7 linked regions of the Homo sapiens genome follow. The protein of the gene in region 2 purifies or fractionates together with the protein of the main gene of each other region. This does not show direct contact. Each region holds a gene or a part of one and is shown on either strand. Other genes may lie near its edges. The genes, in order: KCTD3, DENND4C, RASAL2, STARD13, PTPN14, GAB2 and SRGAP2.

Region 1 (3,962 bases), on a different chromosome or scaffold from region 2:
GCTTCATATTCTATTCCTGTATGCTTCTCAAATTCATGTGGATTGTATTTTTTTTTGTCTATTTTTTTGACCTTGCGTTTGCCTATACTGATTTTTCTTTTTTAATAAACTCCCTCAACTCTTTTGAAGTAGGCTGGGATAACTAATTCAGTCAAGTACAATTCAGTTAGCCCTTACGTGACTTTGGAACAATCATTTGCTGATGTTATCCCATTGTTTCCTGATCCGTCAATGTGGATAAAAATTGTTCTCTCTCAGGTTCTTTTATCTTTTATGAAAATCAACTAAAAAGTCATAAAAATCTTTTTTTGAAGTTGAGTATTATCCTAATGATGGATACAATATGGGCCATCTCCATAGAGCTGTATATTTTTTCTGGTTTCAGATTTTAAAGATTTACACATAAATTTTAAATGATTTTTTAAAAGTCTTTTCTAGTATAACATGTTTGCTTTCTTTCTTTCTGTCTTTTTAGTTTCATAGCTTCTTTTTAAATAATTGCTCATTCCCATCAGGGCTCTTTCTGCTTTTCTTTTGCAGAATATGTGAGATCCAGGCTGTTGACTGTACTACAATATCCTCATTTACAGTGAGGGAATGTGAGGGATCCAGTAGGATGGGCTCAAGACCAAGGCGCTACTTGTTCACAGGCCATACAAATGGCAGTATTCAAATGTGGGATCTGACCACTGCTATGGATATGGTTAACAAAAGTGAAGATAAGGGTAGGTTCTCATACAGAAAGATGTTTGTCACAAGGTTAAGCTTTTCACTTAAGTGATTTTAATGACTATTTGTTCTCCTAAGATGTAGGTGGTCCAACCGAAGAAGAGCTACTCAAATTACTCGATCAATGTGATTTGAGCACATCTCGCTGTGCTACTCCTAACATCAGTCCAGCAACTTCCGTAGTTCAGCATAGCCACTTACGAGAATCAAATTCTAGGTAGGTTAAAGAGTTGGGTATTATAAACAAAATTTATTTCTTTTGGGGAAATTGACTGAAATATTGTAATCACATAGTTGTTCTAGAAAGCCATACTTCTCAAGGTACATTTTAAATTCAGACATTATGTTAACTTTTTAACAGTTTTACCAAATTTCTTGATAGGCATATCTGGTTCTTTTCATAGAAAAACATTTTTACCTTTTAACTTATTTTGTGAATTGCTGCCCAATTGGAAGCCTATTATGTGATCAAGAATTTATTCAAAGGAAATTAGGAAAATTACATGTCACCTTGGTTAGTATGTGAAGCTTTAATTATTGTCCTGTCTCAGGGACAATATTTATCTGTGGTTCTATTATGTTGTCTAGTCTTACATTTAAGCATTATGTAATTTTAATACAAAGTTCCATAATGTCTTTTTAGTTATCATATTGATAAATTCCAAAGTCTGAAGAACCAAGGGCTAAATACTGAATTATGATGGTTTCACATTGGTTTCAAGGATTTTTCCTCCCATCTTTTTTTTAGCTGTTCAAAAATTCAGCATGTCTGTGAATATATGATGGTATTATTTGCATTGGTAATTTTATATACCATCTATATAATAAAGAGTACTTGATAAGTATATTTTTACAAAGAGAAATATGGATATAATACACTTTATGTATTTATATAGTGTGTTTTATTGGTTGTATAATTAATATGTTCCTGAGAAATCACAGAGTGAAATCTGAACTGTCATTTTTAAAAACTGTATTTCAGCCTTCAGCTTCAGCACCATGATACCACCCATGAAGCAGCTACTTACGGTTCCATGAGGCCTTACAGAGAAAGTCCTTTATTAGCAAGGGCAAGAAGGACTGAGAGCTTTCACAGTTATAGGGACTTCCAGACTATTAATTTGAACAGAAATGTAGAAAGAGCTGTCCCTGAAAATGGTAACTTGGGTCCAATACAAGCTGAAGTGAAAGGGGCAACAGGGGAATGTAATATATCTGAGAGAAAGTCTCCTGGAGTAGAAATAAAAAGTTTGAGAGAATTGGATAGTGGATTGGAAGTGCATAAAATAGCTGAAGGTTTTTCAGAATCCAAGAAAAGGTCATCAGAAGATGAAAATGAAAATAAAATAGAGTTTAGGAAGAAAGGAGGATTTGAAGGGGGAGGATTCCTTGGAAGAAAGAAAGTTCCCTATCTGGCGTCATCACCAAGTACTTCCGATGGAGGAACTGACTCACCTGGTACTGCGTCCCCATCTCCTACAAAGACTACTCCATCTCCTCGGCATAAAAAAAGTGATTCTTCAGGTCAGGAGTACAGCTTGTGAAAACTCACCAAAATGAATAGTTGTTTCGTTACATTTAGATGAAAGTTAAACTTTACTGAATTTCAGTACATTAGTTTTTACACTAAAACTTTACAAGATAAAATTGGACTTCATTTAGTATCTTTTTAACAGAATTACTTGGAATAATGAGATACAATAATCATATCTCTTTTGACATTTTGGAAATTTTTTTAATTTTACAAGTACATTTAACAGATCATTTATAAAGCAGGAGTCCATTTTAACACTTACCGACTTTTTTTGGTTTGGAAACATATTACCACGTCTTAATAGGATGGTGCCCATATAGGTGAGCATCCCTTTAGATCATGGGAACCAGCAGACTGCATTCCTAATCTTCATTATGCCTGAGACTTGTCTTACAATGTTACCTTTAAGTGAATCACATAATTGTCTTTGGAACTTGGTCTCCCAACACTTATTGTGATTGCAAAGTGTTTACCAGATATTTGATGAGGTGCTATGTTTGTGAAAAACATATCATGTAATTCAAAAACACTATTGATATTGAATACCAGATACCACTATGTAGTAAGTCTTTTAGGATGATTTTAATTTAGTCGTGCGTCATTTTCTGATTCTCATCATTGGGAGATCTTAAATCTTAGCAAGCATTAGCAATATTAAATGCCAAAATTCCATTGAAACTTTCAAGTTGGAGCAATTGTCTGTGTTTGAAAAGATGAAATAAAAATAATAATCAAGGGCAAAGCTTTGAGTGCCCAGAAGGGAAAGCTGTACCAGTTGCTAACCTGTCTTGTTTCAGGAGCCACCATGTTTTTTTTTCAGTGTTAACAACAATCATGATAATTAAATTAAAACACTAGTTTGTTCACTTGTAGGACTGCAGTTCTGAATTTTGGGTTAAAGGTTTTGGCTGCTGTAAGAATGTGAATTTGAATGTATTTTGAATTGTAAGAGCAAAAGAACGTTTTTGTACAATTTTTTTTCATTTAATTGGAATGATCTTCAGGTTTCTACAAATAGGGTAATTGTAAATTTAAAGCATTAGCATTTATTGGTGAATAATGTATATATCCCCATTCCAAGAAATATAAGTGAGTGAAGTTGAAATAAAATCTTTAAAATTTACTATATTGCCAGTGGTTTCACAACAGTTCTCTTGTATTTATTTATCAATTAAATCAAATAAAAATGATTATGTCAATGCGTTTTCAGTTATTTAAGTAACAGTTCTGTTTAAAGTGTGCTATATATGTTTGTTCATTTCTTTGCTTCTTCCCATAATTTAAAAAAAATGGGGGGAGGGAGAACTTAATATATGTGGAAAATAAGTTATTATCAATGAAAGAAAATATTAGGCAAAGCATAATTTCAAAATTACTAAGATTGTAATTATCTTACACCCTTCTTCCTCTTTATGACAGTTATGTGAAAGTTGGGTGGGCAAGTAAGAAAATGAAAGAAAAAACTAGACTCTAGTGACCAGGAATAAAAGGCCATTAAAAAGAAGATAGTAACTATTATGTAATAGAATCGCATAAAAAGGAAACTGACTATACTAGATTGCATTACAGTACAAGTCAAATCGTTTCTTTCTTTTGCTTACAGGAGATTGAACCTTGATGCAGTGGTTTATGTCTGTCTACTCTGACACTAATTTCTCAGATTGCCCCCATTATGCCTTAATTTTTTCATTATACCTAC
Region 2 (4,458 bases):
GTATAAAGATGTCAATAAAAGACACATAAAATAACATATGCAGTACCTCCATTTTCCATCACTTATTACACTGCCACTCAGACTCTGGGTTTGCCATACAACAAAAGAATTAAATGTCTTTAAATACTACTACTTAGAATGACTAACTTCAGTCACTTTTTTACTAGCTCCCTCAAAAAGTCTGGTAAAGCAATGTGGTGCCATGAAATGAACACTAGGCTGGGACCTGGGTGAATTAAAACCAAACATGCCCCTAACAGCTAAGTGACTCTGTACCAGGTACCAAGTGGAAAGATTCCACGAGATAATCCTTAATGAAATGAGCAACTTAAGCACCTGGGCTGAAGACTCCAAAAGCATCAAATGGCATCGCCAGAAGTTCTACAGAGACACACCATCACTGCAAATTCAGTATGTGGCATTCGGTCATTTGAAATGCAGCTAAAATATATATAAGGGGGACCTGAAGGTTTGTGCCCAACTATTGAAGTCTTTATACCAATTACCCAGCATTACTAGGAGATTGGTATTTCCATTAAAGGAGTAAATTGCCTCTATAATGAGGTAAACTTAAAAATCTGAAGGAATAAGGGGAAAGGTGTTTATGTATTACTATTACTATTCCTGGTAAACGTTTTCATACAAAAAAATATATTTTTTTGCTTTTTATACATGAAGCCCATTTCTTCTACAAGTATCATGAAAAAAATACTAGAGGAAATAAAATATGGTGGCTTTAAAATAAAAGTTTCATAAAAATTCTTATTTGTTAATATAATATACAAACATGATGGCAAACTGAGGAAGTTAATTACAAACAGGATTGTAACCTGTAGCTTTATGTTGACTTTCAAATTTACACATGCTCCTGTAATTATGTGAAGGTTGTTTTTAGCACAAGAATTCAGCAGATAAGTTTTGGAAAGCAATGGCCACACCACCTTAACAGCTGAAACAATTAATTCTTCAATGCCTATAACACTATTTGTCACACTGATGCTACAAACCAACCTCAAAATAAGAATTTTAGCAAGGCATAATATATTTTCAAATAAGATAACAAACATGCTTTGCAAACTGACCATAAAAAGTTAGCTGGATATTTTCAAGAGTCTATATATGATTACATTTATCTGAAGGAGAAAAGGCAAGAAAATGAAAACTGTTTACCACTCAAAACAAACTTAAAATACAATGAAAGGTCTTTCCCCCACCCTTGCAGGTCAGCAAAATTTAACCTAATAAATGGGAAATTACCTGATGTGGTTAACATTCAAGGGTAGAATTAATGCACACGTGTATCCATAGCTTCACGTCATATAAGTCTGTCTGCACCCCACACCATGACAGCCAAGGACAAATGCAGCACCAAGAAACAGCACAGAGCAAAAAGCAAAGCAACAAAGAGCAGAGAAAAGGAAACTTCAGTCATTGAGACAAGTTCATCAGATGAAGCACAGGAATTAGACCCAGAATTCTTTTTAAAGGAAGGCTTGAGATATTAAAAACAACCACAACAAAAAAACAACACAAGAAGAAGGATATGTAACACACATATATCTGCACAACGTGCTACTTTAGTTACACTTATTTCTAACTTCAGAGGAGAGGGATTATTCCCATGGCTATGTACATAAAAGCAGCTTCAATAACTTCTCAGATCTTAAAAAATGTAACTTAAAGAGAATACTTTTTCTCATTGTGTGACTTCCTTCCTTCCCTCTTTAATATTCATACTCTTGAAGTTTTAAGATACATTTTCTATTTAATTTTTTAAAAAGATTTGCAAGTTGTGTCACTAATTTTCAAGTTCCTTAGCTCATGATTCCTAATTATAGCATACACTTTCACAAACTAATGATAAACAAATACAAAGAAGCATCATGCTAGAGCACTGTGCACAGCACTCCCATACTAATTTTGTACTATAGGAAATAAACAGAAGTCATCTGCAGACTCGTATTGTTTCTCTTGTAAGCATACAGTACTTTTAAAGTAGTCATATCACACAAACTCAAGAATGGAAGAAGCTTTTTGAAAAAGGAAAGATTTAACATGAGAGTAAGTGAAGGGTTAGTAAAATCTGGATTTTAGTACCTGTGCTAGAGTGATTATCAATGGACTCAAGCCTGATTAAATCTCTGACGAAGACTGTGTGCTCCCCATTGTTAGCATCATTAGAACTATCCACACTACCGTGGCTCACCGTGTCCCCATCACTTCCACCTGTGACATTTTGAAGAGCTAAAGATAAGGACAATAGCAGTTCAATAACTCATGCATTGATAATCTCTTAAACTAAACATGATTGACCCACAGTTCATTTATAGTTGCAGAACACTTTCTAAATTTCTGGAAAAAAACAAAAATAATTTTGGACTAAGACAATCTGTCTTTAAATGTATGTGAAAATGTCTACCGGAATTTAAGTTTTCTACTTCACATAGCTAAAAATTCATATGCCTATAAAGCTCATGGTTCAGTAAGGAATTATATTTCTAATCACATGTATTACCTGATATTGAGGAGACCTGTGACCTTTGCACAGTCTTTTTAAGCGGCTGCCTAAACTGTGCCAAGCCACGTACCACATTCCGTACCTTCGTCCATAAGAAAATACCACTGCGGGTACTGCTAGGCCACGGGCTCTCCAAGACTACCTAAAGGTAAAATAAGGGTAAAAATAATGTTCATTAGCAATATCTGATTTTAAAAATACATACATATATGTGTGTGTGTATGTTTATATATATATATACACAAATATAAAAAGTTATACTGGCCAAGAGGTATATTAAAAAATGCTAAACATTACTAAACATCAGAGAAATGCAAATTAAGACTACAATGAGATATCTTATCACCTCATACTTGTTAGAATATTGTCAAAAAAAACAAAAGATGTTGATTAAGGATGTGGACAAAAGAACCCCTACACAGTCTTGGTGGAAATGCAAATTAGTACAGCCATTAAAAAGATTCCTCACAAACAGTATAGAGTTTCCTCAAAAAATTAAAACTAGAGCTACCATATCATCCAGCAATCCTATTACTGGGTATAGATATGCAAAAGAAATGAAATCAGTATATTGAAGAGAGATCTGTACTCCCATGTTTATTGCAGCATTATTCACAATAACCAACATATGAAATCAACCTAAGTGTTTATCAATGTATGAATGGATGAAGAAAATGTGGTATATATACACAACGAGATACTATTCAGCCTGAAATAAAAAAGGAAACCCAGTAATTTGTGACAATATGAATGAACCCAGAGGACATTATGGTAAGTGAAATAAGCCAGGCACAGAAAGACAAATACCGCAAGATCTCACATATATATGAGATCCAGGAAAGTGAAACCCATAAAAGCAGAGACTAGAAGTATGGTTACCAGGGGCTTTGGGAGGTAAGGGGAAAGGGGACACTGGAAGATGTTGGTCAAAGGATACAAAACTTCAGTTCAGTAGGAGAAATAAATTCAAGAAATCTATTGAACAACATGGGGACTACAGTTAATAACAATGTATTGTATTTTGAAAATTTCTAAGAGATTAGAAGTGTTCTCACCACAAAACAATGAAGGCATATGTTAATTATTTAATAGCTCGATTGAGCCATTCCACAATATACATATCTCAAAACATCATATTGTACATGATAAATATATATACTTTTTGTCAATTTTTAATAATTATAAAAATTATTAAAAAATTATATCCCAAAACTTCCTTTAATAGGAGTTTCATGAATAACTAAAGGTATACAAAATAATCATTCTTAATAAACACCACATCTTGCCTAATGTCGATCCTACTTACCTTATTATAATAACCATAAGTAATAGCATTAGGCTTTATCCTAGCAGTTTTCATTTCAAATAAGACTCTCACTGCTAAAACAGGATGACCCCAAAGTCCACAAAGCTGCATCACTACTCGATAGCACACCTAACAAAAAAAAAAAATCAGTGTCAGTAATTAGTATACTAATCTATCTGTGAATTGTAGAGATTTTACTGAATTCTTTCCATGAAGTTATTAAGCAGTATTTTCTCCTTTGTTCTGCTTTGAGCATCTTAGCAAATTATTTTTAAGACCTATTCAGGCTGGGCACAGTGGCTCACGCCTCACAGCACTTAGGGAGGCTGAGACGGGTGGATCACCTGAGGTCAGGAGTTCGAGACCAACCTGGCCAACATGGTGAAACCCCATCTCTACTAACAGTACAAAAATTAGATGGGCATGGTGGTGCATACCTGTAATCCCAGCTACTTGGGAAGCTGAGGCACGAGAATCGCTTGAAGCCAGGAGGTAGAGGTTGTAATGAGCCCAGATCACGCCACTGCACTCCAGCCTGGGCAACAGAGTGAGACTCTGTCTCAAAAAAAAAAGAAAAAAAAAAAAAAACCCAAAAACAAACCTATTCATTAATGCAAGTATCATCATTATTAAC
Region 3 (4,458 bases), on a different chromosome or scaffold from region 2:
TCATAAGTAAATTTAAACACAAAAGTTATAATCCATAGAAGCCAGATAAGAGACTAAATATTGAATATATTGATATATTCCGACATATCAAGAAATAGTAATAGTACTTTGTTTGGTTCTAAATACATTATTCTAGCTGTGAGTTTCTTTGGATCTGAGATGTAATTTTATCATGACCAGTTTGCATACAGTATAACGGTAACTCTTCCTAGTTAATATCCTTCATAGGTCAAAGACTCTCTCAACTAGTTTTTGTTCTTCCCACAACCAGCATATTTCTCCTTTAAATAAAAAATATTCCTGAGTTTTTACTTCTATCCAAGGTGAAATAAGTGTATCATGAAACAGCTACCAATTGTATCATATCCCTTGGATTTTTATTCTAAATATAGATTTTAATCCCACAAAGACTCTTGCTAATACTCAATATGCTTCTGGAATACTTCCTTCTGTGCCTAGAGGATACAGTCATCAGTTAAACTTAAATAAAATACAGTGAGGAAGAAAACCACCATACAACACTCTAGAACTAAATTAAAGATAAGGAACCTTGAACATGCTGTAGGGTTATCGTGCCAATCCTACCATTTATTTTGTCAGACAAGAAAGAGCTGGCTGTGTTATCTATGTTTCATGCAAATTGGCTTTAAATATTTGCTGGTCTCTCCATTTTACTTGTTTAGTTTTATAATCTTCATCTTTTCTGGATCTAATAGGTTTTCTTCTTAATTCTTCTTGTTTTGACCAATAGTAAAGCACATTTCTCTAATTTGGATTTCTACAATATCCATATCTTGGTTTATGAAAGGTAGGGAAGAGACTTCAGGTACTGCAATCCCCCTTTTCCACTTACCTTGGCTCTGCCAGTACTTTGAAGAATGTGCACTAAGGCACAAGCCAACTCCTCTTTATTTCTCACACTAATTACTGGCTCAAGGACAGAACACAGCATGGTGTAGTTGCTGGTGACAAATTCTGCAAATTCTTTGTATTGCTCCATAGGCAGAATGGTGATAGTTTGGAAACGTGATTTAATCCGAATAGAAGGTCCTCCTGTCTTTCCTTTGTTGGGTGTAGGTGTACTCACTGGATACCACTTTTCTACAAATTGGCGACCAGTCACACTGGCAGTGGGGATGTTGACTAGCCCTACATAATTATTCTTGTCCTTTTTTTTCTTTTTTTCCACATCCTTGTAAATGTGAACTGTGATACTATGAAGAGGTGGAAGGCTGAAGAATTCAAAATGTTCGCCCCAGAAAATATTGTCTGCTTTGGTCTTGCTGGTTGTACGAGCAAAGAGGGTATCATCAAGGCACAGTTCGCAGAAATATTTCTTTTTAGGGGCAAGGTCCTTGGCTTCAATGATCCATAAACGAAGAACATTTTCAGCTCGCCTGCAATTGTCCTATAAAGAGGCAACAAAGCTGAATTTCAGAGCTGACATTGCAGAAAAAAAAACATTTTTTTCTTAAGTTGGCAATGTTCATTAGGTACTCTATTAAGGGGAGTCAACAAATAATGAAAGGGATTGCTATCTCATTGCTTAGGTTAACAGCAAGCTCTAAACAAGCATGCATTAGAATCTTGAAGAATTATATATAGTTCATTATATATATTATATATAGTTCATTCTATTTTATTTACTTGGGTTAAGAAAATATCATTTTGTAACGGTAAGTTTTCATATAACCAGTCTAATATCTGCAAATAAAAGAGATAAGCTGTTAAGAAGCTCGTATTCTAGTCCCTCTTCTATCATGTACTAGCTTCTGACATGGCCAATTCACCTAACTTTTCAGAGTCCTTTTATCCATGCTGGTAGAACCATGGCAATAATATCTGCAGTAAGACTGCTTTTAGCTTAAAATGATAATACAGTTTGGATAGTTGTCCCTGCCCAAATTTTATGTTGAATTGTAATCCCCAGTGCTAGAGGTGGGGCCTGGTGGGAGGTGTTTGGATCATGGGGGCAGATTCCTCATGCCTTGGTGCCATCTTCCTGATACTGAGTTCCTGTGAGATCTGGTGGTTTAAAAGTGTGTGGCACCTTCCCCCCAAGTCACTCACACACACACTCTCTCTCTCGCTTGCTCCTGCTTTCACCATGTGATGTGCCTGCTCCCCTTCTGCCTTCTGCCATGACTGTAAGTTTCCTGAGGCCTTACTAGAGGCTGAGCAGATAACAGCACCATGCTTCCTGTAAAGCCTGCAGAACCGTGAGCCAATTAAACTGCTTTTCTTGATAAATTACCCAGTCTCAGATACTTCTTTATGGTGATATAATAAGGGCTTACTACAAATGGCATAACATATAAATGTGCTTTAAAACTCTCAAGCTATAGACAAATTAAGGTATTACTACCACACTTACCTTCTATCAATTAACTGCTTACAAAGTTATACATTTTTTAGATACTTGAAGCTACTATTACCTTATTAGGTTGAACTGTCCTGCGAAGGTTTTCCATCCACTTGTCTCTCTCAGAAGCAGAATTACAGCTGAAGCATTTACTTCCACTTAAGTAGGTAACCTTCAACATAAAAATTAGACATAAGAAAAAGAAAACACTGGATTTCAGGGCTCTGTCATTAGGGTTCACAGCATACCTCTAACTCTTAAATGATAAGGTCGAAATGTCCTGGAATTAGGATGGATGGATGGATAGATAAGAAAAACATGGTCTCAGATCCCAAACTACTCATGCTGTGGTTACAAAAATAACCTAATGAGCGACATCCTTACCAATACTAAAAAATTAATATACTAATTTAGTGTTATTGTTAGTCTCATCCTCTGACGAAAATGTACTAAGAGTCCAATTTTATTGAAAGTAGACAAGGCCAAAAGGAATGCAAAGCTGTGAGTTAGACATATGCTATGAACCTAAATCATACCATAAGAAACTAAGATGATCTTTGCTAGTTTTCCGATACTTATATCTACATCTACATCTGCTTTTTGCTTAGGTAGCATCCACATCCATTTCCAGGTATGAGAACAAAGGCCATTTTAAATTCATCCAAGGAAATTAAAACTGGCCTATGGTTCAGAAAAATCAAAATTAAAGGCCTTTTAGGCAATAACTTAAATTACCTGCAAATAAATATGTTCAACTTTGAGTTAGTAAAAAATAGGTAATAAAGGATGAGAGTTTCTGAAACAGCTTATCAGATTTCTTGAGACTGTCCTCACTATATTATAGAAGGGTGCTAAATGAAATTGAAGAGTTACTAATATTGAATTACTATCTTTGGAACCCATTTTTCCTCCACTACGCAACCAGCCTGTTGATTTCTAGTCATTTATTAGGTTAGCCTGACCACTATTAACACAGTCCTTTAAAAATGAAATATGTTGTTATATACTTAGCACCTAACTCTGGGCTTGATATACAGCCTAATGAACTGAGTTCCGCAAATACAAGAAAGTTCAACTGATTTTTATAAAAAAGAACACCAATAAATGTCTTGCCCAAATTGCTGAAGTCTGCTCACTTATTAACTCAATCTCTGGTCACAACCTAATAAATCCGATCAGATTATATGCTCTGTCCAATACAGCAGCTACTAGCCTCACATGGCTATTCCAGATTGAGATGTGCTGCAAGTGTAAACACACATCAGATTTTGAAGACTTAGTTTTAAAAAAAAAGGAAACAATTTCTCTGATAGTGAACATGTTGAAATGATAATATTTTGGATATGCATGCAGATTGTACTATATTTCTTTTGGACAGTGCTGGTCCATAAGAAGAGGAACCAAACAAACATCTTTTGACTTCTACAACATCTAGTATAGGACTCATCTGTAGTCACTTAGTAAGCTCTTGTTAATTAATCAAATCTCAGCCCTAATAATTCTATGTATGTATAAATACATGTATATATAGTTTTTGAATTTTACTTGTAACTGGCTAGTAGTACATATTTGGAAGGGAGAAATTACCTTATGATAGTTGGCAATTTTGTTTATTCAAAAATCAGGCACCTGCAATGTGCTGGGGTCTGGGTTAGTTACAGGGGATTTCAAAAATAAATAAGACATTTAGGTCAAAATGTCCTGGAATTAGGATGGATGGATGGATGGATGGATGGATGGATGGATGGATGGATAAATAAGAAAAACATGGTCTCAGATCTTGAACCACTGATGCTGTGGTTAGAAAAATAACATGATGAGTGACATCCTTACCAATACTAAAAATTAACATAGTAATGTAATGTTATTGTTAGTCTTGTCCCCTGATGAAAATGTACTAAGAATCAAATTTTACTGAAAGGAGGCAAAGCCAAAAGGAATGCAAAGCTATCTTTAATAACTTTAACTGCAAATATGATTAGATGAAAAGATTTCTAACTTTTTCTCTGTAAGTAGATAATTTCTAGCAACTGAAAACCAGTTAATTAAATCATCAACTGTACAGCAATGAAATCGCAAAATTACTGGACATAAAA
Region 4 (3,517 bases), on a different chromosome or scaffold from region 2:
ATATTCATCTTGACTTGGGGTCTGTAGTGATGGGCATGGGAGCGAGAGGTATCGCTTCTGTTTCAGTCACTCTCGCTGACTCCGGTGGTCCATATCTCACTGAAATTCCATCTTACTGGGCCCAGTGGCAACTCCTCATCTAGCTTTAAATTTGGTAATGACTTCTCACCCCCCCATTTGCTTTAAGGAGGAGTAATTATTATTTCCTTGCTTTATCCCAGATCTCCACTCTCAGTTTTTGAATAGCAGAAACAAAGCGTTAACACATAAGTCTCCTTTAATGTTATTTTCCTTTGGTTAACTCATCTTTGGTTAGGCATCAGGGCATGTTCACACCTTGGTGTTAGCAGCAGGTTCTGCACAGCTTACAGGACAGTGGAGAGATGGGGCCCAGAGCCACTTGGAAAGAACTGTGTGAGGAAGGGACTCACTGAGTCAGACACCGTCATTTTCAAAACACACAATTCTATATAAAATTGGTATTTTACATATATACAGTAAAGATGGAGATATACACACATATGTACATATGCTATACATACATTTATTTACAGTTAGGTATACGCTTCTTAGAAGCCTTTAAATAGCAAATTAGGCAATGCACAAGGAATAGTCCATTTAATTTTAAGTAATATATATAAAGTTCTCATTTTAAAATTATATTAGTAGGGATGTAGCCATCTCCAGGAAGGCTAAGAAAGTTCTTGGAAATTCTTGCATCTCCAACATTCCAACTTCTTAACGTTTCCATTTTTAGGCATTAACCGCGTCCTTCAGTTCCTCTTTCTCTCGCTTTCTCACATGCACACTCTCTGCCACACTCGTCACTTTAGCTTCCTCTTCCCTGAGTTTGATGTCACACTGGGCAAAACTCAGATTTTAGTTTCTGGGCCCTCAGCAATGAGGGGCTGGAAAGAGTTTCTAATCCTGGCAACTTCTGCTGCACACAGATGTCCAAAGCCTTTGCTGTACCATTCTGGGGAGTGACCTCTGTGGGGAAAGAAATCAGAAAGGAAGTGGGAAAGTTTGTTTCCAAATCACAGCAATTAGTTTTGGTGGACAGGGCTGCCCTTGGGCCCCGATGACCAGTGAACCTGCAGACAGCTCGGGCTGCTGCCTTGAGGGGCTCAGGACGTCATTCTGCCATCAGGGGCCTTGAAAACGTCCTGGCTGCTAAGTATTCATGTTGTCATTTGAGTACTCATCAGGTGCTTTAAAATGATACCAACATCTTGGGGTAAAATGAAAAGATTCAGATGAAATCCAGAATTTACTGTGAAAACTCCGTTTTGTCTACCCAGACCAAGAACTGGGTTTAGCATCATGAATGCCTTGAAGGGGTTGGATGTAAGTTACTTACTTCTCAAAGAACTACCAGAGGGAGCAGCAAAAGGGGACAGGCATAAAAGAAATACATGGTCGAGCACGGTGGCTCATGTCTGTAGTCCCAGCACTTTGGGAGGCTGAGGTGGGCGGATCACCTGAGGTTGGGAGATTGAGACCAGCCTGGCCAACATGGCGAGGCCCTGTCTCTACAAAAACATACAAAAATTAGCTGAGTGTGGTGGTGGGCAGCTGTAGTCCCAGCTACTGGGGAGGCTGAGGAGGGAGGATCACCTGAGCCCAGGAGGTGGAGGTTGCAGTGAGCCCTGATGGTGCCACTGCACTCCAGCCTGGGTGACAGAGTGAGACCTTGTCTCAAAAAGAAACACAAGAGAGGGAAACTCTGATTTACTGAGTACCTACTATGTGTCAGGCTCTGTTTCTGGTGTGTGTTTCATGGGAGAAAGACAGAAATATAAGTAGGCATAAAACAGAAAATAAAGAAAGACAAACAGTTGCAGGAGAAATGTCAGAATTTCAGGAAAGGGGGAAAGACAGAGGGGAGGCATACATATCCACCTATGAAAGCACACTAATGGCAATGAGGAAACAAATACAGTGAAATAAGAAATCAGGGTGACATCCCTGCTGGATGTGCTGTACAAGCTGAGACTCCCAAGATCTGAGCCTGCCATTAAGGGAGTCAGCACTTACTTCAGGTCTATCCTGCAGATGTGAGTCAGTCTTGACTTGCCAGAGCCACACGGTTCTATCAAGTACTGCGAGTCCATCACCACTGCTCGCACACCACCCAGGAGCTGGGCTTCCTCATGCTCCACGGAGAGGGACACCAGGGTACACATTCCTTTGGGCAAATCAGTTTTCCAGGTCCTGTAGCAAAACAATCCGCACATCAGAGTCATGACTGAGGGAGGAAGAAGAACCTGAACACAGAGCTAAGGTTTGTGTTTATATTTTCCTGCCAACAACCTGGGCTCAGATTCCAATGCTAGTGACTTGGATTAAGCTAATGGCTTTCATAAGCTTGTGTAAAGTTTATACAGAGAATTTCAAAGCAAGGATCTCAGCTCTGGGACTGTGAGGCCAGAAATGGTCTTGCAGCTTTCAGATCTGCATCTGGAATCCCCAGCTCTGCTTAGCTGCAGAGGCTCCTGCCCATTCTCGAAGAGGTGGTTTTACAGTTTATTATTAGAACTCACTCATTCGATTCATTCAGCAGACATCAATTAAGCAGATAGACATGCCAGTCTCTGAGAAGCCACCAAGGACATAAAGATATACACAGCCCAGGAGGAAAAATACTGACACTCTAAACAGAATTCTAAAAGCACTGAGGTAAATGCACTGGTAAGATTATGCACAGAGGGCTCTGGGATCACATAGAGGGGGCTGCGGGAGGAATATGGAGAAGGCTTCCTGGAGGAGGGCATGCTCAAAGAGAAGTGAACTGGTACGCTTAGCTTGAAGGAAAAGAAACATATGTGGGCCTGCTTATTGTCTTCACATACTTGAGTGGCTCTTGAGTGGGAGAAGAAATGAATATGGTTGATTTGACTCCAGAAGGCAGAGATAGGAAAGTACATTTCTGTGCAGGAGAGAAGCACTGTCTAACAATGTGCACTGTTCAGAAATGAAATGTGCTGCCCTGGGAGGCAGTGAGCTCCCTGTTCCTAGAGCTATTCAAGCAGAGGTGGCTACCCCTTGAAAAAAGGTTGTGGATGGGAGTCAGGAGCTATGAGAACATCTCTGTAACAACCTCTAACTTCCCTTTCTACCCCAGGGATCTATCATAATAGATTGCATTATTAGAATTCCCATGATTTACTCCACAAATTCTATTCCCTTACTAAGTCATGTCCTCCATGATTTCACCCTGTCCTCCTACACCAGGAAGAGAAATGGTGATATGTGCTTGACAAGAACTTGGGAATAACCAAGCCCCACACAAATGCTCAGCGACTTCCATGCTGTGACTACTCTTTTCATGAACGAAGATGTGATAAATCGTGACGACTGAAAGTTGTAGAGATTTGTTGGGATAAATGGGAGAATCTCCAGCAACTCTCAGCGGAAGCTCCCGAGGAGCTAGCAATGGGTGTGACATGAGAGACAAATGCAGCAATCCTGAAAGGTGACCAGCCTCATACATGCTAGCCTAGACTGTAAGATGCTC
Region 5 (4,458 bases), on a different chromosome or scaffold from region 2:
GAAAATTTAAAAGATTCACAACCGAGGTGCAGTAGAATGTTAGAGAGAAGTGCAAGTGCAGTCTAGAAGCAGGAACAAGCTTCGTGCATTCAAGAAACAAAGGTCAGCCGGGCGTGGCGGCTCACGCCTGTAATCGCAGCACTTTGGGAGGCCAAGGCGCGTGGATCACAAGGTCAGGAGATCGAGACCATCCTGGCTAACATGGTGAAACCCCATCTCTACTAAAAATACAAACAATTAGCCAGGCGCGGTGGCGGGTGCCTGTAGTCCCAGCTGCTGGGGAGGCTGAGGCAGGAGAATGGCATAAACCCGGGAGGCGGAGCTTGCAGTGAGCCAAGATCACGCCACTGCACCCCAGCCTGGGCAACAGAGGGGAGATTCCATCTCAAAAAAAAAAAAAAAAGAAAAAAGAAACGAAGGTCTTCGGGGTGGCTGGAGTGTGACATGTGAGGGGCCAGGCGATCAGAGAGGAGACTGGAAAGGCCTCACAGTCCATGGTGGAAAGTTTGGATTTCATCCCATGGGCACGGGAAGTCATTCAAAGGTTTTAAACAAGGCGGGAAGGGGTTCCAGCAATCGCTGTAGGTCACGTTACTCCTTTCGGATGTTCAGCGCACAGCTCTTTCTGTTACAGCACACTGACTACCGATGCTGTCTTTATCTAGTGTCGATTTCACATTTGTTTCAGCCTGACCAATGCGTTTTAGTTCAATCTACAACTAGAACTGAGAACAGCTGCTTACATCACCATTCTTTCTCCCTTGATTTTATAAACTTTTCTGAGAATATGTATTCTCAACCATTTACACAAGGTCTATGTTTCAGCTTTGCACCGTTTTAAAATCTCTGGAGAAGGGGCGGAGTGTGGAGGAGGTGGTAGCTGAGGAGATTCAGGGCAAGGAGTAGGTGGTGAGAGAGAAGGAGCACTGAACACATACAGCTGCAGTGGTGACAGGCTCTGGGAACCCTGATGGCTGTTTACAGGAACATTAGAGTTCCTCTTGTAAAGCCCACTTGTAAAGCAACACATCTTTGCGGAATATGTAAATTACCTTGCCTGGCTTCATTTGGTTTAATTGAGTCTCCTTAAATTGGAAGCATACCTTCCTCTTTTATTTACCAATCCTGTGAAAGCAGATTTACCTCGAATTTACATTTCTGCTGAGTGTCTAAATCAGTTATGGATTTTAAAAGACTATAAGTCCCCAGCTGTCCCACAGATTACTAGATGCTACTTTGTCTTGGCAAGGCTGGCTCCTTGTCACTCCGGTCTCACCTCCAATGCCACTCCCTCAGAGGGTCCTTGGCCACCCCCCTGATCTAAAGTAGACCCCAGTCACTCTCTTTCTTAACCCTTTTTCCATTTTTAAAAATTTTCTCCCTTGAATTTATGCTACTATTAATAAGGTTTTTACTTCCAGCCTTCCAGCAAGTGTGCAACATGATACAGAGCCTGGAGCTCAGGGTTGCACATCGTGAAGCCACCCTTTAGTAGGAGTCCCCTAGCGTGAATGACAGTTTTGCAGCTGAAACCCACACAAAGAGGAGGAGGGATGAGGCAGGAGGACCTGTACTCACCCAGACCCACTCTGGACTATAGTTTTCCATTTCTGCCACGGCACTTACTGCTATCTGCACTGATTTTATCTGTTCACTTTTGAATGTCCCTCCCACTAGGACATAAGCTCTATGGGGACAGGGATGGTGCCTGTCTCGTTTACCGTGTACTCCTGAAGTTAGCACAGATGGTATGCTGTATTTAGGTGAATGAATGCCTTGCAATGGTGTGAGCTGATAAGGTGATAAATCTATTCTAGAAGCTTTAAGGAGGATTCATTCTCTTTGTGGGAAGGTCAAACAGGTCAGCCCAGGGAAGTACAACTGGCTTTAAAGAGCCTGATGTCCCTTTCATTATTTTCTTCTAATGGACTGTGCTGAGAAGCAAATGCTCAACACAGTCAATGAAGGAAAATATGACTTTTTCCTCCCCAATTTTCTTTGTTCCTGACCCCTTTAACATAGCTAGGAAAGGCCACTGCAATACCATGGATATTGGTAAACACACATGAAACTAGTCCCTTGAATGATTTCAAAACATAAATTGGAATTTAATGAAAGAAATAAAAGAAGGTGGTTAAAGAAATTTTGAGAATGTGACAAGAGAAGAAATACAACACTTCTCCCCACAAAGACAGCAAGCTCAACACCGACTGGATTGACTGGCAGTGTAGGCTGGTTTTTTATAACATCACATAGAGTTCTCTAGTTACAGCAGAAAAACTATGTTTGGCTTGGCAAAAGAAGAAAAAGATATTTTTTCTTCCCCCAAAGAACAGAGGACTCTCCAGGAACAACGGCTTCTGGTCTCTTTTCAGCTGATAAGGATGATGGCATGTGGAGCTGGGTGCCTGGAGTTGGGCGTCTATGTCGATTTGCCCAGAGCAGCCTGAGACTCCCAAATTCCAGTGGAAAGATCACTGTTTTCGTTTGGCACAGAAAGTCAGCAGGTTGAACTAAAGTCTGTCATTTTTGGTTTTCTGTTGTTTTATTTTCAGTTTAGTGCATTACAATCCAAGGAAAAGAGTTAAAAGCCAGATGAAAATGGGAGGAGGAAAAGCTACAACAATCAATTATCTCCAGGGGAAAAAATATCTATCTGGAAGTAAGAAAACAGATGTATACCAAAGAGAAAAGCATGTGCAGAGAAACAGCACTGCAGGAAGAAGGATAGGGTAGCAAAGTTGACAGCACAAAGCCCATCTTCTGGCCACCCTTTCCCCTGGGGAAAAAGGATGTGGAGTAGGCCATTCCCCTTACCTCCTCTGCAGTGACCATGGCAATCACATTCACTCCCTGCTCCCACACCATCTGCCAGAAGTCGTGGCACGTGTGTGGCAGGGGCCCCTGGGTGGCTATGTAGTGCCATTCTGCCCCGCCAACCACCACCTAAAAACCAAGAAAAGTATCGGTAAATAAACCCCAAGTCCGGACAACATTACCTGCTGATCACCTGTCCATCTGTATCCACCTTAAAACCTTGGATATATTTTTGGGGCCGAATGAATTAGTTCAATGAACAAAAACCCTGAGACTACAGAGGCTAGTGTAGTGACACATTCTCACATGAAAATACTTTTTGCCACTCAAGCCTATTAAATATTTATCTAATCCTGGTTTTTGAGACTGAGTCTTGCTCTGCTGCTTAGGCGGGAGTACAGTGGCACGATCTTGGCTCACTGCAACCTCCGCCTCCTGGGTTCAAGCAATTCTCCCGTCTCAGAATCCCAAGGAGCTGGGATTACAGGCACTCGCCATCATGCCCGGCTAATTTTTGTATTTTTGTAGAGATGGCGTTTCACCACATTGGCCAGGCTGGTCTTGAACTCCTGACTTCAGGTGATACGCCCATCTCAGCCTCCCAAAGTGCTGGGATTACAGGCCTGAGCCACCAGGCTTGGCCTTTACCTGATCTTTGTTTGCAACTCACAGTATATGCAAACTAGTGCCTATTAAAAACCATACACATACACACATGTATAGATGCATATATATGAACATGTATAACTTAGGATTTACTTGTTACAGAAATAATAGTTACTGCTTACTATGTGCAATGTACTCTAACACTTTCCATTCTTTTCTCTTTTCTAGTCGATTTCATTGAAACACACACACACACACACACACACACACACACACACACACACACACACACCTGGTCATGACCACTAAACTGATTTCACATTCTACCACTGTGTTGTAATCCAGTTTGAAAAGCAGTGCTTCATGGCATCCAATTAAACAATAAAAAAAAAAAAAAAGATCATGAAACAACATCCCTTTTGGAGCACTATCTTTCTCCTGTGGATCTGAGATGAAGTGTATCATAAACCTCTGCTGTCACTGCTGCTCTGTGGTGCCATGCACGGCAGAGATGCTACGAATGCTCTTGTCAACAGCATATATTTTATCAATAGCTTCACCTTGGTAGTACCACAGCATCCAACTGAACTACAGTCATGACATGACTTTGGATAATAAAATTATTACCCCTGCAGCTCAGGGTGATCAGGGGAAGATAATTCTACAGCTATAAATACTAGCTGCTGAGAACCATAAATAAGAAGTTGTACCCAAAGTGTTAAAGGTCATGCTGTCAAGGTGAAATGGTGGCCTTTGGAGGAATTCTTTCTGTTCTCCCTTCCAGGTCTGTGCCTTGATATTGCAAAGTCAGGTCCCTTCTACATCTATACAATGCAGATCTCTGGAGAGTTCAAAAAGTAATGAAGTAATCATTGTTTGAAACTTTTTCCCCTCATTTATTTGATAAAACTGTATGCTAACTTGGTTCAAACAAAAACAATGTAAGTTATTGTCTCATTACACAAGGCATGTTTAGGTCAAAGCTGGCAAGAAAAATCCATTTTCCAAATACTGGTGGGAGATAACATTCATATA
Region 6 (4,458 bases), on a different chromosome or scaffold from region 2:
ATTCCAGCGAAGCCCGAAGGACTCACCATAGGGACATAGTTCTCTTCGCTGTCTCCTGAGTCTGTGCTGGTGATGCTCTGGGTGGAGATGGGGCGGCAGTACTGGGAGGAGCTGGAGTTGAAGGTGTGGCTGTTGTGGGAAGGAAGAGTTAACACTGGGGAAGCTGCATGGCTGCTGCCATGTTTCTAGCCTCCAGCTGGGCCCTGACCCTCACACACCCAGACCTCAGCCATTAGAGCTGCACACTCCATCAGATTAAGATCTGATATAGGGCAGGTATAATTATTCTCTTTTACAGCTGAGGAAACCAAGCCACAAGACATCGAGACATGATCAGCTAATGATAGCGTTAGCATCAGAATCCAGCTGTCCCGGCCCACAGGCCAGCTACCACATCACTCATTTTCCCTAATGGCCCGACTCCAAGCTCCCACCCCCACACATACGCACTTACTTGGCCCTAGACCAAGACTTGGTGATAGGTGACTTGAAGGGGAGTTCATCGATGACGGTGTTGTTCCTCAGGTCAAGTGGTGTTGGCTTTGCTGGAGCAGGAAAAGAAAGTCTGGTAATCAGCCAGTAATGATAATGCTACACATACACACCTTATATATAACACATGAGCATGTTTATAAAGGCCTGCAAAGTCATTCCAGTTTCACACAGGGAAACTGACGCTCAGCGAGGTTGTATAATCTTTGCCCATATTGATGAGCCTTGAAGTCATGTCTTCAGATTCCAAATTATATATTCTTTCTGCTGTATCTATGGTAATTATATTTTCAGAATCAAAAGTGGGGACACAGGGTTTGACAACAGATTTTTCTCCCTCAATTTATGACTTCATTTAAAAATAAAAGACTATATATAAAATATATTTATATATTAATATATTAATATTTATAAAAATATATACTATTTATATATTAACACACATATATGTATTTTTTAAGACGGGGTCTCACTCTGTTGCTCAGGCTGGAGTGCAGCGGCGCAATCTCAGCTCACTGCAACCTCTGCCTCCTGAGTTCAAGTGATTCTCCTGCCTCAGCCTCCCTAGTAGCTGGGACTATAGGCGCCTGCCACCACGCTTAGCTAATTTTTATATTTTTAGTAGAGACGGGGTTTCACTATTTTGGCCAGGCTGGTCTCGAACTTCTGACCTCAGGTGATCCACTCGCCTCAGCCTCCCAAAGTGTTGGGGTTACAGGCGTACAGGCGTGAGCCATGGCGCCCAGCCAAGAGACCATATTTGAAGTATAGATGGTCACCGTGACTACTCCCTGCTGCTCCTGGCCAGGTCGGTGCAAGCCACAGTGGAGGAAGGTAGATGCCATAAGGGCTTGAGGGCTTCAGTTCCAAATGCTAAGATTTGAATTCCCTGTTGGCCAGACCCACAGGGGGCTATCTCTGCCTAGCTATCCTACTCCTCCCTTTGAATCCTTGCCACTGATCCAATGCCAGGAGAGTGAGATTGTAGCAGACGAGGACCTTGCCTGGTCTACATGCAGGGGGCACAAAGCTGACTTTACTGAACGCCTGCTATGTACCAAAGTACTATCCTAGATGCTCTCCTTTGCAGCAAACCTGGGAGGTAGGAATTACCATCTGCATTTCACAGATAAGAAAACTGAGACTCAGATTTTACATGATTTGCCCCAAGTCACACCTCTCAAGTCCAGGATCCACATGACCCCTAAGCAAATGGAAAGAGTCCCTAGCCACTGTCCAGAGATGGGACAGGGGAAAGAATGGACTTACCTTTCCGATCAGGTTTGAGGTTGCGGTTGACAGGGGGTGGCTGAATCTCACTTCCTCTGCTGGGGCCTCGGTGCACAGGAAGGGTTGTTGATGGGTAGCCAAGTGAGTCAAAGTGATGGGCCCCTGGGCTCATTGGGATGTAGACGCTCTGGGAATTATCACCTGCTCGTTCCATGGCCAACAGGGTGGAAGAACCTGGATTCATGGGCACATAGTTGTCTTCAGAATTGGTGCTGTCCGATCGGCCCACAATCATTTTCCCTGGCTAGGGAGAGGAACAGTGAAAGAAATACAGCTGTTACTAGCAAGAAGAAACAGGAAGGGGGTAAGACTTTGTAAATGAGGCAAGACAAGTCATGACTGGGTTAGCTATACTTTGAAGCTGTAAGGGAGACCTTGGGGAGACCAAATAAGAAAGCAGAGTAGTGGGAGGCTGAGGCAGGTGGATCACTTGAGGTGAGGGGTTCGAGACCAGCTTGGCCAACATGGCAAAACCTCCTCTCTACTAAAAATCCAAAGTATTAGCTGGGCGTGGTGGCATATGCTTGTAGTCCCAGCTACTCAGGAGGCTGAGGCACGAGAATCGCTTGAAGCTGGGAGGCCAAGGTTGTAGTGAGCCAAGATCATGCCACTGCACTCCAGCCTGGGTGACAGAGTGAGACTCTGTTTCAAAAAATAAAAAATAAAAAAAAGGAAGCAGAGTGGGAGACAAGAATATATGAGGTCTGTGGGCCCCTTCAAGCCTTCACGATCCTTTGGCATCCACTAATAATTTTTGATAAATCTAGAGTATAAAATATTCTTGGTGACTGGGTCCACTTGGCTTTCTGGACGCCTGACCAACACTGTGGGTGGCATAGTCCATAGACTGTAGGTTTGGTTCAGGACCTGCCCTCCACCTCAAGTCCAGACTCACCACTGGCAGGTCAGCATCTCAGGCCCTGGATCAGAACAAGGAGCATATTAGGAGTCCTGGCTCTGGAAGGTGAGGTCTGGGGCCAGTTGTGTTTCCCCAGTCCAGGTTTCTAAGTACCTGGGGCTCACTCCAGGCACCTAGGGGACCACCAAGCTGCAGTCAGAGCTTCTACAGAGTTGTGTGATACAGCAATCCCAGCCTTCCTCTAACTCTTGCTCTATCTGCCGTGACATACAACTAAGCTGCTTCTGCCTTGGTTACCTGATTTCACTGTCTTTTCAGTGGGCCTGAAGCCAGGCCCTGGTCTTCTTGCCTGACACCTTGGAGAACTGCGGTTAGCATCTTCCAGAGGGCAGCCTGGGATCCTGCACTCAAGCCATAATTCTGCCACTTAGCCTGACTGTGAGTACCACCCTTGCCTGGAGTCTCACACTGCAGCCTCCCTCCTGCATGTGAGGCCACGTGGGTAAGGTTGCTGTCTTAGAGGTTCCCCCACCGTGCAGCCTGGGTCTATTGCATTCTAGATCCTCTGCTTACCTACAAGGTTGGTGAACCTTGTAATCCAGTCTACCTTAGCACATACATTTCTTCCAGACTAGAATACTTATATCTTACTTGTCCAAAGACTCAACGCAGGGTTCTGAACTGAGACAAGAACTTGGGCAGGGTCCTAAGATGGAGACGCCATCAATCTTTTGGGGTTGTGCTTTTAATTCCATAAGGTGTGACCTTTTACCTAACCAGGCCGGCCTGAGGACCCTTGGGTTAACCCACACTCACCAGGAAAGAGCCAACTCCATCACTCATGGATTCAGCAGACCGGCCTGCACTCTCTCCACCACGCTGTGGGTACTCGTAGGTCTCACAGGAAGAAGCTGACAGAGGAAGGAGGATTCATAAGTACTCATGGTTGATTCATGTGTTGACACTTACCCATACCCTCACCAGTGTGGTTCAAGGTCTTACTGATACTCCAGAAGATACTACTCTCAACCCCAAATGATAAGGAATTTCTTCGAACACATCACTCCTCAGTTCAAAAATTCCTCCTGGGCTTCTAGATGTAGCTCCAGTGTTAGCATCTGCAGAGAAGCTGTCCTTGACTACTCTACCCTCATCTATGCACCTCTCCTTTGACTCCTACACCACTCACCTGTCCTGCTCACCCCAGCCATCACTTCTCTGAACACCACAGTAACAATACTTGTCCTGATTTATATGTGTTGGTTTTATTTTCCCAATGAGATGTAAGCTCTGAAGGGCAGGAACATGTTTTATGTATGTCTTTATCATCTCAGTTCCAAAACGGAGTATGACTGCTCAAATTGTCGATGGATTGAAAGACGGCAAAGAGGTCTAAACTAGGAGCTGGGACTCTAGGGTCTGAGTCTCATCTCTGGCACAATGACTCTGCAACTCTATTTAAGTCTCTTAACTGTCATTGGCCTCATGTGAGATGGAGACAAGGAGGTTTTGTCCCACCAACCTCTCTGCCTGGCTTAAACAACAGGATGGACAAGAAAAGGCTTTGCAAACCATAAAGCAAGATGCAAAATGAAAGGAATTAATATTGTTCTATTTTTTCATCATACAGAGGAGGTTACATGCAGAGTTGGAATACTCTCAGTGGAAAACAAGTAACAATAGAATTTAGGTACTTCAAATAAAAGTTTTGACTTCAACCAAAGAGATTCAAGTATGATTTAGAAAATATTAAGACCTCGTTTTGCTTTAGCAGTCTGTTAGTCCACACAGGTTTCACTCCAGTTTGGACTGATCTT
Region 7 (4,156 bases), on a different chromosome or scaffold from region 2:
GATGTGATCCATCCCCAGGGGCATCTTTTATTAGAACAAGCCTGTTAAAAATAAGTGTTGGCCCTAGGGGCTCTAGGATTTGTTTGAAGTTGTTACCTTGAAATAACTTCACCCTTGAACTTAAGCTCTGCTAGACTCACAATCTGTAGGAGAGAAAACATCACCTGTATCCCCCACTCCCACCAACAGCACAAGCATATTGGTCAGCTTTTCTCCCAGAGGCAGAGGGCTGTCAAGGGCAGAATGACTCAGGGCTTTGGTTGTGGAAGAAAGAGAATCTCTAGTCACCCTTGGTTGTAGCTTGCCAAGTTTCTAAGCAACTTCTTAGGCCCCACTCCCTGAAGTGAGGAAATCTGACTAGAGATAGAAATGAGAACAGTCCTTATTGAAAACAAGGAAGGTGGATTCTGTGAAGGAAACGGTTCTCATGGCAACAGGCAGTCCAATGGTGAGCGGGAAGACTCTCTACAAAACCTATGAGAATCCACACACAGGCTAAATGGAAATGCTGGGGGAAAAACCTCCCATTCTAAATGCAAGTGTGCTGTGCCTTGGTGGGGAGGGAGAAGGTGGCTGGCTGTAAGGTCATCTCGTTGCTCTCTCTGTTGCCAGGCAGGGCTCTGTTAGCACAGACGAATCAAAATCCCTCCTGGGCAGCTGGAGTCCTGAATCAGAGATTTCAGAGAGGAGAGAAGGGATATGAACTGCAGCATCGAAACCTAAAAATGTATTTTATTTTGAAGTTGTGCTTTGGATTTTCCCCAATCCAACATCTGTTGAGTGACAGTCTTAGGTTCACACAAAGCATCTCCAAGCATACATACAATATTCCAGTTATCAACACTATTTTAAAGAATATACCATTTTACACAAATGTGACATACAAGTCAGACGCCACAACATTGCGATTCCCTGGAAGATGTGACTTCTCTTCTGCATGGGAAGTAGATCTGCACCAGCCCTTCCAGTGCTCTGCGCATCCCGGTGCTGGCATCACCGCTCCTCATCTCCTTGGGGAGAAGCCAGGGCGCCCTGAGGAGGTTGGCTGAGACCAGTGTTTCCAGTTTACAGGCTGCTGGCTACAAACTCCTCTATTTTCTAAATTGGGATGCTAGTAGCCCCACCCCACCTCTCTTCCCCGAAGACTGACCCTTCAGAGTCCACACCAGGAAAAGGATCCATGCCATGAGGGGTGGAGCAGGGCTCTTTGAAGCATCATGCTGGTTTCGGCAAGCATAGCTGAGGAAGGCTGGTCTCCCTAGGCCCTGGATGGCCAGCTCCTTTTGGCTTTTCGGTGTAAAAATCACAGTGTGCAACCTCAATTCCAGTTGTTTGCAGTGAGCTCTGCCGAGAAGGACTCTCCTCCTATCGGTTCCTAGTCCTCTCGACAGGACCATCTCACAGGTGTTAGGAGCACCAGAGATGGGGAAGACAGCTCTGCCCCCAGAGCTGGGTTTAGTAGGTGACCACTCACACACTGTTCAGTTCATGATGCAAATTAGCGCGGATGGACACTGATCAAGGGGATGGTGAACACGAGTCATGTACAGGGTTGAAAGAGAAATAAGGCAGGAGCAACAGAACAGGCCCAAAGTGTTGCCATTAAGAAAGCTTTGCTTTTACTTTCTTAGAGGGGAGTGTGCTGGAGAGAGGGAGAAAGGGCAAGTGTGGGTACCAGTTTTGATCAGTTGGATTGAAAGGAATGTAAAGTGAAAGATAGGGTTTCATTTTCAGCAAGGAAACAGATCCTTGGGTATGAAAGCCCCGTTGGCTTGGGACCTGTGTAGGCCCAGGTGACAGGCAAGAACAGGTCAGGAAACAGCAACAAAAATCAAGACTGTGGGTTGCCTCTTCTAGGCTGACTCACTTCACTGAAAGAGTTCTTCAGTTCTCCTGCCTAGCACTTGGAAAGGTTTCTCTGGTGCTGCAGGTTAGCCTTCTCATTAGTGATTTCCCACAAAGCACCTCTTTTCCTTTGCACAGGATTAAAAAAAAAAAAATCCTACCACTTTCCATAGACCTAACTACCAATTTCGCAGGTTGGTCCAAAAAGAATCTCTTCTAGGTCAAAGATAAGAAAACTCAGATTTTCCTACCAGAATGGCAACCCACCATCTCTCCGGAACTACAGAAAATAATAAGGCTAAAATATAAGTGCAGCTTTTAAACCAGAAAACACAGAGAAGAAGGATGAGTTTCAGCTTTAACTCAAGTTGCTGTCTGAGACCCATGAGCCTGGCTGTGGATGTGTCTGGTCCTGATACTCCTGGGATAGCATGATGCTAGGGGGGCCAGGAGCACAGGCACCAGGTTTGGAGACTGAATTGGAGCAGACAAGGGTATGATTTGTGCATTTTGGAAGGGAACCAGAAAAAAGGCCAGAGTAGAGCCAGAATATTCAGCATTCAAATTTTAATTTTCTTTCGATTCTGGCCTTGGGAAGACTTGAGAGCCTGTGGGGTCAGGGTTCCCTTAATTGTCCTTGTTTGCATAAATGAAAACTGGTTTTAAGAGGTAGGGTCTCCCTTTAATCTAACTAAGGCTCTCTAAGCCCCTGTTGGTCCCTGAAGAGAGACCTTGTAAAATAAGGAAACTAAGGGGTGGACTTAAAACAAGTTTTCATTTGGGAACAATTTCTGGATTAGCAAAGCTGAATTTAATTTTTTAATAGGATAATGAATTTTATGTTTTAAGTGCCAAAAACATTAGGAGGAAAAAGGACCCATTTCTTACCTTTCCCAAACCTGCCATAGACACAATAAAACTCTCTTAAGACTCTTTACCCTAAAAGGAACCAGCTATAAAACTGTCTTATACAGGAAAATGTCTTAAATGGAAAATGGTCCATCAGAGACAAAGGTAGGAACCCGAGAAATGTCTATACATTCAGAAAAACTTTAAAAGCTCCTTAATAAGACGGGGGTGTACTTCTAGGGGATGGAGGAGAGGCAAGAGCAAACACCAATGACCAATTCACATCAATGGAAAGAACACAGAGAGAAAGCCCCCAACCCCAAACAGGTTACGGGATTGTCCCATCCCGTTATGTTTCATATGATGGAGAGATTTCAAAGGCTAGGTTCTCTGGCCCAGACAGAACAAAGTTTGTGATGGAAACAGAGACCCCTGGTGGCTACTGTGTGAACTGCCACAATAACTTACAAAGAGACTGGTCTATGACCAGGAGAGGCTACACATGCCAGAGACTAGAAAAACATATGTGTGTGTGTGTGTGTGTGTGTGTGTGTAAAATGTGTGTGTGTGTAAAATATGTGTGTGTATGTAAAATGAAGACTGGACTATATATGATTCTCTATAATCAGTTCCCAAAACAAGATGCCACTGAAAGCTGGATGGCAGTAGCCAACCATCTGGTCAAGGCATCACCGTGGTCTGAGGGGACTGAGACTTGAGCCCATGTCCTCAGGACTGCCTTACCAGATTTCACAGTGACCTGATAATGAAAACCTGTCTCTGGCTAACCTAAGAACGGTACGGACTGCAGCTGGCTGAATTACGACGACTGGGGGAAGCAGAGGGCAGTGGGAAGGGAGAGGCGATACCAAGGGCTTCATTCTCAAGGTTTTGGGAGACGGGGAGGCTAATTCCTGCAAGAACAACTTAGAACCTAATTTTCAACTGAAGTCCCCAAGCTAGTTAAATAGGAAGATTTTAATAACAGTCAGTCCCTATAGTCCCCTTGTCTAGAACAATTAAATTATTATCCCTCAGACAGTACAAGACTTGTCAGTAGACTGTGGGGAAGTTGATGAGTTGACACCAGGGCTAGTGGCATTTGTTTTGGGGAAGACAGTGGGCTTGGGCCGTGTGGCTGGTGGTTTGACCGGGGCAGCCATCTTGACAGACTTGACAGGCCGGAAGGCGCAGGCGATGTCCCCAGCAGTACTGGCGCTGCGCTGGAAGGCGGGCTCGGGGTCCTTGAGGAGCTGGGTGTGCAGAGGGCTGGAGGGCTCTGACGTGGGGGCCACCACTGGGGAGGTTTTGAGGGGCTCCAAGGTGTCCAGAACCACGTCAGGGGTGTGTTTGACACTGCTCTGCCGTTCTAGTTCCCGTAGCTCATTCAGGGCCGAGTTCATTGTTGCCTCAATATCCTGCAAAACAGGAAAAAGGAGGAGGTGAGGCAAATGAGGGGAGA

What was found.
Region 1: the proteins of DENND4C (region 2) and KCTD3 purify together in Homo sapiens (affinity purification with mass spectrometry, with the first as the bait; one large-scale study listed by BioGRID). This does not show direct contact.
Region 3: the proteins of DENND4C (region 2) and RASAL2 purify together in Homo sapiens (affinity purification with mass spectrometry, with the first as the bait; one large-scale study listed by BioGRID). This does not show direct contact.
Region 4: the proteins of DENND4C (region 2) and STARD13 purify together in Homo sapiens (affinity purification with mass spectrometry, with the first as the bait; one large-scale study listed by BioGRID). This does not show direct contact.
Region 5: the proteins of DENND4C (region 2) and PTPN14 purify together in Homo sapiens (affinity purification with mass spectrometry, with the first as the bait; one large-scale study listed by BioGRID). This does not show direct contact.
Region 6: the proteins of DENND4C (region 2) and GAB2 purify together in Homo sapiens (affinity purification with mass spectrometry, with the first as the bait; one large-scale study listed by BioGRID). This does not show direct contact.
Region 7: the proteins of DENND4C (region 2) and SRGAP2 purify together in Homo sapiens (affinity purification with mass spectrometry, with the first as the bait; one large-scale study listed by BioGRID). This does not show direct contact.

Annotation. Positions count from the first base shown.
Region 1 is NC_000001.11:215,618,346-215,622,307, forward strand, and holds the end of KCTD3 (BTB/POZ domain-containing protein KCTD3), read left to right. Parts: intron 1-540; coding exon 541-725; intron 726-807; coding exon 808-946; intron 947-1,711; coding exon 1,712-2,273; 3' UTR 2,274-3,462; downstream 3,463-3,962. UniProt on the Homo sapiens protein: Accessory subunit of potassium/sodium hyperpolarization-activated cyclic nucleotide-gated channel 3 (HCN3) up-regulating its cell-surface expression and current density without affecting its voltage dependence and kinetics.
Region 2 is NC_000009.12:19,334,472-19,338,929, reverse strand, and holds part of DENND4C (DENN domain-containing protein 4C), read right to left. Parts: intron 4,380-4,458; exon of another isoform or gene 4,262-4,379; intron 3,954-4,261; coding exon 3,825-3,953; intron 2,661-3,824; coding exon 2,516-2,660; intron 2,245-2,515; coding exon 2,098-2,244; intron 1,330-2,097; exon of another isoform or gene 1,258-1,329; intron 1-1,257. UniProt on the Homo sapiens protein: Guanine nucleotide exchange factor (GEF) activating RAB10. Promotes the exchange of GDP to GTP, converting inactive GDP-bound RAB10 into its active GTP-bound form.
Region 3 is NC_000001.11:178,439,625-178,444,082, reverse strand, and holds part of RASAL2 (ras GTPase-activating protein nGAP), read right to left. Parts: intron 2,535-4,458; coding exon 2,436-2,534; intron 1,409-2,435; coding exon 854-1,408; intron 1-853. UniProt on the Homo sapiens protein: Inhibitory regulator of the Ras-cyclic AMP pathway.
Region 4 is NC_000013.11:33,104,721-33,108,237, forward strand, and holds part of STARD13 (stAR-related lipid transfer protein 13), read right to left. Parts: intron 2,215-3,517; coding exon 2,038-2,214; intron 991-2,037; coding exon 873-990; 3' UTR 1-872. UniProt on the Homo sapiens protein: GTPase-activating protein for RhoA, and perhaps for Cdc42. May be involved in regulation of cytoskeletal reorganization, cell proliferation and cell motility. Acts a tumor suppressor in hepatocellular carcinoma cells.
Region 5 is NC_000001.11:214,369,894-214,374,351, forward strand, and holds part of PTPN14 (tyrosine-protein phosphatase non-receptor type 14), read right to left. Parts: intron 2,947-4,458; coding exon 2,818-2,946; intron 1-2,817. UniProt on the Homo sapiens protein: Protein tyrosine phosphatase which may play a role in the regulation of lymphangiogenesis, cell-cell adhesion, cell-matrix adhesion, cell migration, cell growth and also regulates TGF-beta gene expression, thereby modulating epithelial-mesenchymal transition.
Region 6 is NC_000011.10:78,221,651-78,226,108, forward strand, and holds part of GAB2 (GRB2-associated-binding protein 2), read right to left. Parts: exon of another isoform or gene 3,553-4,458; coding exon 3,458-3,552; exon of another isoform or gene 3,422-3,457; intron 3,080-3,421; exon of another isoform or gene 2,960-3,079; intron 2,027-2,959; coding exon 1,762-2,026; intron 878-1,761; exon of another isoform or gene 546-877; coding exon 455-545; exon of another isoform or gene 130-454; coding exon 27-129; exon of another isoform or gene 1-26. UniProt on the Homo sapiens protein: Adapter protein which acts downstream of several membrane receptors including cytokine, antigen, hormone, cell matrix and growth factor receptors to regulate multiple signaling pathways.
Region 7 is NC_000001.11:206,460,993-206,465,148, reverse strand, and holds the end of SRGAP2 (SLIT-ROBO Rho GTPase-activating protein 2), read right to left. Parts: intron 4,113-4,156; coding exon 3,729-4,112; 3' UTR 713-3,728; downstream 1-712. UniProt on the Homo sapiens protein: Postsynaptic RAC1 GTPase activating protein (GAP) that plays a key role in neuronal morphogenesis and migration mainly during development of the cerebral cortex. Regulates excitatory and inhibitory synapse maturation and density in cortical pyramidal neurons.